Homo sapiens: one gene and its partner. The gene in region 1 interacts genetically with each later gene. Each region holds a gene or a part of one and is shown in the gene's direction. Other genes may lie near its edges. The genes, in order: RAB25 and CDH1.

What was found.
Region 2: changes in RAB25 (region 1) and CDH1 together harm fitness more than expected from each alone (negative genetic interaction), as found in Homo sapiens cells (one large-scale study listed by BioGRID).

What each region holds. Positions count from the first base shown.
Region 1 is NC_000001.11:156,059,767-156,063,959, forward strand, and holds the start of RAB25 (ras-related protein Rab-25 precursor), read left to right. Parts: upstream 1-1,393; 5' UTR 1,394-1,634; coding exon 1,635-1,677; intron 1,678-4,193. UniProt on the Homo sapiens protein: The small GTPases Rab are key regulators of intracellular membrane trafficking, from the formation of transport vesicles to their fusion with membranes.
Region 2 is NC_000016.10:68,743,559-68,747,575, forward strand, and holds part of CDH1 (cadherin-1 isoform 1 preproprotein), read left to right. Parts: intron 1-4,017.

The sequences.
Region 1 (4,193 bases):
TTTTTTTTTGAGATAGAATCTCTTGCTCTGTCACCCGGGCTGGAGTGCAATGGCACAATCTTGGCTCACTGCAATCTCCGCCTCCCGAGTTCAAGCAATTCTCCTGCCTCAGCCTCCTGAGTAGCTGGGATTACAGGCGCGTGACACCATGCCTAGCTAATTTTTGTATATTTTTAGTAGAGACAGGGTTTCACCATGTTGGTAAGGCTGGTCTTGAACTCCTGACCTCGTGATCCGCTGGCCTCGGCCTCCTAAAGTGCTGGGATTACAGGTGGGAGCCACCGCACCAGGCCTCTTTTTTTTTTTGAGACGGAGTCTTGCTCTGTCGCCCAGGCTGGAGTGCAGTGGCGCGATCTCGGCTCACTGCAAGCTCTGCCTCCTGGGTTCACGCCATTCTCCTGCCTCAGTCTCCCGAGTAGCTGGGACTACAGGCACCTGCCACTACGCCTGGCTAATTTTTTGTATTTTTAGTAGAGACACAGTTTCACCGTTTCTACCATAGAGCCAGAGAGGGCCCCCTCCTGTTTTTTTATCTCTTACCAAGACCTCCTGGGGCTCCTCATTCCTTCAGGATGGTCTCGATCTCCTGACCTTGTGATCCGCCCGCCTCGGCCTCCCAAAGTGCTGGAATTACAGGTATGAGCCACCGCACCCGGCCTTTTTTTTTTTTTTTTGAGAAGCAGTCTCTGTTGCCCAGACTGGAGTGCAGTGGCACGATCTCAGCCCACTGGAACCTCTGCCTCCCGGCTTCAAGCAATTCTCCTACCTTGGCCGCCCAAGTAGCTGGGATTGCAGGCGCCCACCACCATGCCCAGCTAATTTTTTTTTTTTTTTTTTTTAGACGGAGTTTCGCTCTTGTTACCCAGGCTGGAGTGCAAGGGCGCGATCTCGACTCACCACAACCTCCGCCTCCTGGGTTCAAGCGATTCTCCTGTCTCAGCCTCCCAAGTAGCTGGGTTTACAGCCATGTGCCACCACGCCCAGCTAATTTTGTATTTTTTTAGTAGAAACGGGGTTTCTCCATGTTGGTCAGGCTGGTCTCAAACTCCCGACCTCAGGTGATCCGCCCACCTCAGCCTCCCAAAGTGCTGGGATTACAGGCGTGAGCCACCGCGCCTGGCCTCAAGTGGGTTTCTGAGGGGCTATTTCTTGCTCATTAGTTGGGGGACCGGCCCTCACCACAGATTCCAGAAGCCCAGCAATGCACACTCAGCCCTCAGTGGGCTGTCTCTGAAGGTCCTGTCCCTTTTTCGCTTCCCCCCCGCTGGAGCTGCTTCTCCCGCTTGCGGGAGCCCAGGCTGAGAGCAGACACCCAACCTGTCGAACCTGTCTGACGTCATCATCTCTCCACCCACCTGGGCCCCAGGTCTCCAGCCACCCCGCTCTTCCTGTTCTCAGCTTCCGTCCTCTCTGCTTCCTTACAGCACCCCCACCTGCCAGAGCTGATCCTCCCTAGGCCCTGCCTAACCTTGAGTTGGCCCCCAATCCCTCTGGCTGCAGAAGTCCCCTTACCCCCAATGAGAGGAGGGGCAGGACCAGATCTTTTGAGAGCTGAGGGTTGAGGGCATTGAGCCAACACACAGATTTGTCGCCTCTGTCCCCGAAGACACCTGCACCCTCCATGCGGAGCCAAGATGGGGAATGGAACTGAGGAAGATTATAACTTTGTCTTCAAGGGTGAGTTGGGTTCCCTGAAGCAAGAGGAAGCCTGAGAGACCCAGAAAGAGATTGAATAGAGCCAGAGAGGGCCCCCTCCTGTTTTTTTATCTCTTACCAAGACCTCCTGGGGCTCCTCATTCCTTCAGAAAGAAAGCTGCAGGGAGTGGGGGAGGGTCTGGTTGCAGGGGCAAAAGTCAGGGAGCTTCTGAGTATGCTCTACTGTGGTAAATAATGATGTTGATTCCTCCTTAAGAGTGCTGAGTTAGGCTCCTCTGCCCCGTTCCTAATAGAAACCCAAATCCCTGGTGTCAGCCAGTGCAGCACAAGAGATGGAGGTCAGACTTCAGAAAGGACTTCCCTCTTTTATTTTTTTTTCTGAGACGGAGTCTTGCTCTGTCGCCCAGGCTGGAGTGCAGTGGTACAATCTCAGCTCACTGCAACCTCCACCTCCTGGGTTCAAGCGATTCTTCTGCCTCGGCCTCCCAAGTAGCTGGGACTACAAGCACCTGCCACCACGCCCGGCTTATTTTTGTATTTTTAATAGAGACGGGGTTTCACCATATTGGCCAGGATGGTCTGGAACTGACCTCATGATCCGCCTACCTCGGCCTCCCAAAGTGCTGGGATTACAGGCATGAGCCACCACACCCGGCCAGGACTTCTCTCTTGAGAAGAAAGGGAAACCAGCAAACAAGAGGAAGAAAGTCATCTTTTCTGGGCAGGTGTACAGGGAACGAGAGAAAGGAGAGACACATCCCATTATAGGGTGGGGCAATAAATACATAGGGAAGACAGAAAATATCATGAATTTGCTGCAGAGTCTGATAGAATCCAGAGGACTCCTAGGGTTGTAGCCTCGTCTGCCTGGCCCTTGGCTGACTCACTGGACCTGCATACCAGGCACTGGGCTCAACTTTGCTGTCCCTGGAAGCATGCATGTATCTTTCTAGCCCCTGTGTTTGGTGCCTTTGCTGTTTTCCAACCCCACCTTCATACTTCCTTTAGGGCAGGGTGGACTCTCCAGCCACCCTACCCCAATGCCTCTCCCAACCTCAGCCCGGCCCCTCCCTTGAGCTGGGACTCTCACTCCAGAACCCGCCCTTGAGCTGGGGAACCTGTACTACTGGCATCTTTTCCAGGAAGGAAAGGGTTAGCAATAGTCTGGGGCAATAATATGAGGAACTACCATTTATTGAGCACTTACTATGTACCTGCCACTACCTCATTAATACCATAACAATCCCCGAAAGTCATATTTTATTTTGAGGGGCAGTGTAACATTGTGGTCAGGAGCCAGACTGGGTTCAGATCTCAGCCCTGCCACTTACAAGTATTGCGGGTTGGTCAGCCGGGTGCAGTGGCTCACGCCTGTAATCCTAGCACTTTGGGAGGCCGAGGCGGCGGGATCACTTAAGGTCTGGAGTTCCAGACCAGCCTGGCCAACATGGGGAAACCCTGTCTCTACTAAAAATTCAAAAATTATCTGGGTGTGGTGGCACGTGCCTGTAATCCCAGCTACTCGGGAGGCTGAGACAGGAGAATCACTTGAACCCAGGAAGCAGAGGTTGCAGTAAGCCGAGACTGTGCCACTGCACTCCAGCCTGGGCAACAGAGCAAGACTCTGTCTAAAAAAAAAAAAAAAAAAAAAAAAGTATTGAGGGTTGGGTTGGGGTCCCTAGAAGCAGACGCTGAGAAGAAGTTGGGGTGTTCAATGTTTGTTTGTTTTTTGAGACGGAGTCTCGCTCTGTTGCCCAGGCTGGAGTGCAGTGGAGCGATCTTGGCTCACTGCAATCTCCGCCTTCCTACAACCTCCGCCTCCTGGGTTCAAGCGATTCTCCTGCCTCAGCCTCCTGAGTAGCTGGGACTACAGGTGTGCACCACCACACCCAGCTAATTTTTGTATTTTTAGTAGAGACAGGGTTTCATCATGTTGGCTAGGATGGTCTCGATCTCTTGACCTTGTGATCCGCCCTCCTAGGCCTCCCAAAGTGCTGGTATTACAGGCGTGAGCCACCGCGCCCAGCTCAATGTTTTTTTACAAATCAGCACCTGTGAAAGGAAGGGAGAGGAAACATAATTGGGCAGAGGGAGAAGTCAAACAGCAACACAGGCTGGACAAACCTGGGTCAAGGGCGGGGAGCTCTGTGATTGCCTCACCTTGCTTGAGCACTGGGTGTAGGCTGCCCAGAAAAGGCATGACTTCCAGTGAGGCCGCTGTCTGCACCAGAGGCAGACGCTGAAGGAGCTGACAGCTGGAGCCTGTCTGCAGCCTGCACTCCCTGCAGCTTGGGGCAAGTCCTTCCTTGAAGGCTGATCTGGCCAGCACATCTCTGTGTTTACAACACTAGCCCTGTTATCTTGGGCAAGTCATTTGACCTCCAAAGCGCCTTGTCTGTAAAAACAGGTAAAATAGTAATGGGATTCATGGCATTCTTATGAGGATTAAATGAGGTAATATGTGTAAAGCTTTTAACGACACTGCCTGGCACATAGTAAGCATTCAGTACACTGTAAACATGAACCATTAGTATCTC
Region 2 (4,017 bases), on another chromosome or scaffold:
TTTCACCATGATGTCAGGCTGGTCTTGAACTCCTGAGCTCAAAGTGGTCTACCTGCCTCAGCCTCCCTAAGTGCTGGGATTACAGGCGTGAGCCACCGAGCCGGGCCCCTTCCTGGGTTTCTATCCTGCCTCAGCTCTATCTCCTTTGAGGGCACAAGGCTTTCAAAAAGGAGAATGAAATCATTCAGCAGTGGCTGTTTAGGATCCTTCAGCGAGGAAGTACAGGAAACTAGGTTTGAATTTTAGCCACTAGCTATTTGACTTTGAATAAGTCACTTTACTTCTATGAGTCTCAGTTTCCCCACCTGTAAAATGGGGCGGTAATACTTATTGATCTATTATGAGAATTAAGTATGTACATTCATTTAGTTCACAAAAGTGAGTGCCTGTTGTGTGTTAGCACCAGGCTAGACCCTGAGGTTACGGCAGATTGGACGGAACATACATGCCAATGGGCAGGAATGTAAAGAGAGAAAGTAGAGAGAATATTTTCAACAGTAGTTGATATTTCTTAGGGACACAGTAAACTCTCAATGTTATTTTGAGCAAATGAATGAACACATGAATAAATCGCTATCTTGGCCAATATTTTTCCCTCTCAAACTCTATGGACTTGGTCCAGCCCTTAAGGTTGATTGTAAATGGGCGGGGAAGAATTTGGTGGGTTAGAACCTTCCATTATGCTCTGTGTGTGCTGGGGATACTGTGTTCATAGCTTCCCTCTGAACAGCTGTGCAGGGCAGGCAGGGAGATCTCAAACCTGAGTCTGGAAATGGGAGGGCATATAGCCATTTTTAAGTGTTTTCCACCTTTGGTCAAATAAAAAGAAATCTGTGGTGCATGCTCACTCTTTCTCTCTCTATCCCCATCTCTAGCCATCTCCCTTTCTTTCTCTCTTCCTCTTTGTTAATGTAAGTTTCCCTAGGCCAGGGATCTCAGTGTCCCAGCTTGTTCTTGTTACTCTTGGGGGACTGGGGTTTAGGCCTCCTCCCTTTCTGCACTTTTCATCTTCCTCCTTCCTTCCTCTTACCTGCCTCCAATCCTCCACTTCTGCCCAAGATTTGGGTGGCATCTTCCCCAAATTCAGAAGGTTCTTGAATCAGACTGCCTAGATTTCAATCCAGACAATGTCACTTCCCAGCCTAGGGATGTCAGCCAAGGACTTAGTTTCCCTCTCTGTAAAATGAGCATAATAGCATGGAGACATCATAGGATGGTATGTCAAGCGTTCAGTGAATATGAAATATTAGAGCCCCAGGAGGACTTGGTGCTGTCTGTTTGAAAGTCTCCCATGTTTTACGTTTGGTTCAAAAGATCCCCTGCGCTCCCTCTCACCCAGCAAACCAGCCAAACCAGTTTCTTCACCCTGCCTGCTTCTGTGTTAAGCAAACAGTGCACTGCAAACAGTGACTAAGCCTAGTGCCTTGTTAGGAAGAAACTGGCGTTTTTTTGCTTGCCACTGTGCAGGGTGCTCAGGGTGGACCGGAACGGGTTTGTTGTGGCTTAGGAAAGGGGACCTGCTCGTGGAGGTTGTGTAGAACTGGAGTGGGAGGAGTGGGGCAAGGCGCAGCTAGGGCCGGGGGAGTCGGGATGATCTTGAACTTGTCAGCTTCTGCTTGGCTTTTAAAAGTTATCCAGGCCAGATAGATGCTGTGGCTCACACCTGTAATCCCAGTGCTTTGGGAGGCCAAGGCCGCAGGATTACTTGAGCCCAGGAGTTTGAGACCAGCCTGGGCAACGTGGCGAGACCCCCATCTCTACAAAGATTAAAAAAAAAATTTAGCCAGGTATGGTGGCGTGCACCTGTGGTACTAGCATCAAAAAAATGCAAAAATTTGCTGGGCGTGGTGGCATGTGCATGTAGTCCCAACTACTCAGGAGGCTGAGGTGGGGGGATTGCGTGAAGCCCGGGAGGTCGAGGCTGCAGTAAGCCATGATTGCACCACGGCACTCCAGCTGATAGAGATCCTGTCTCAAAAAAAAAAAAAAAAATATATATATATATGTATATATATATGTATGTGTAATATATGTGTATATATATGTATGTGTATATATATATATATATGTATATATATTTCATGATGCACATGCCTAAGAATACCTGTCTGTTCTCCTGCTGCCAAAAACGCTCTGTCCCAGCCCCTGAGATCCTTGTGGCTAAAAATCAAATCACCTAGGGCACTTCATGCAGACTTGCCCTCTTGCAGATTCACTGAGAGCCAATCTCCAAGGGTGGAGATCTGAACTTGACATTTACTTACTTATTTATTTTTTGGGATGAAGTCTTGCTCTGTCACCCAGGCTGGAGTGCAATGACACGATCTCAGTTCACTGCAACCTCCGCCTCCTGGCTTCAAGCAATTCTCATGCCTCAGCCTCCCAAGTAGCTGGGATTACAGGCATGCACCACTACGCCTGGCAATTTTTTTTGTATTTTTGTAGAGACGGTTTCACCATGTTGGCCAGTCTGGTCTCAAGCTCCTGACCTCAGGTGATCTGCCTGCCTCAACCTCCCAAAGTGCTGGGATCGCACGCGTGAGCCACCACACCCAGCCTTGAATTTGATGTTTTTAAAAGCTCCTCAGGCCAGGTGCGGTGGCTTACGCCTGTAATCTGCACTTTGGGAGGCCAAGGCGGGCAGATCATGAGGTCAGGAGTTTGAGACTAGCTTGACCAACGTGGTGAAACCCCATCTCTACTAAAAATTCAAAAATTCAGCTGGGCGTGGTGGCATGCTCCTGTAATCCCTGCTACTTGGGAGGCTGAGGCAGAAGAACTGCTTGAACACGGGAGGTGGAGGATGCAGTGAGCCGAGATTGTGCCACTGCACCCTAGCCTGGGCAACAGAGCGAGACTCCATCTCTAAATAAATAAAATAAATAAGCAAGCTCCTCAGATATCTGCTGCCACTCAATGCATTTCCCTGGACAATCCCAGGGGCTAGATGTTTGATGAGTAAATACCCCAGCCAGGATGTGGGCACCTGGTTGTCCAGCCCAAGGCCAGGGATCCCAGGTCACACCCTTGATCAGGGAGGGATAGGCTGGTGCTTCTGCCATGCCCAGGATTGAGAACTCTATGGATGCAAGGAGGGGTGGATGGGAGGCTGGGTGCAGTGGCTCATGCCTGTAATCCCAGCACTTTGGGAGGCCAAGGTGGGAGGATCACTTGAGGTCAGGAGTTTAAAACCATCCTGGCCAATATGGTGAAACCCCGTTTCTGCTAAATATAAAAAAAGCTAGCCGGGCGTGGTGGTGCATGCCTGTAATCCCAGCTACTTGGGAGGCCGAGGCAGGAGAATCACTTGAATCTGGGTGGCGGAGGTTGCAATGAGCGGAGATTGTGCCATTGCACTCTAGCCTGGGCAACAGAGCGATACTCCATCTCAACAAACAAACAAACAAACACACCAAAGTGGGGTGGATGGGTGTGGGAGTGGGGGACCCAGAGAAGTATCCAGTGCACCCAGGCCTAAGACTCACCCCCTACACTCAGGGAGATTCCAGAAAATCTCCAAGAGAGACCTCTCAGCAGGTAATTCCAGTAGGCTCCAAGAATGCCACTGGAATGAGAATGTGTTCAGGGGATGCCAGGAGTGGTCAGCTTCACCTGCTGGGCCTTGATGAGTAAGAGGGTGTCTTCCATGCAAGGAAAGGGAAAGGGCACTCCAGGAGGAGGAAGTGGGGTACCCAAAGGTGTGGCAGGGTCATGGAGGCAGAAGGCTGGAGCTGTGCCTTCCTGGGCACAGAAAGAGGAGGGAGGAGAGGGTCCCAGGATGAGGCTGCAGAGGCAGCTGGGCCAGGGTACCTCTGGGCCTTGGGCCGTGGGTCATGGAGGGTTTTCTCTTTCTGGGCTTTTCATAGGCAAATTATTCACCCGGTTAAAAAATAAGTTTAAATATACATCTTCATATATATATGAAAAAGCTTGTATATATGTCTGTATGGCAGACAGTGAAGTCTCCTTCCCACCCCAAACCACGCTTCACCCAGTTCTTCCCTGGGGCACAGGGAA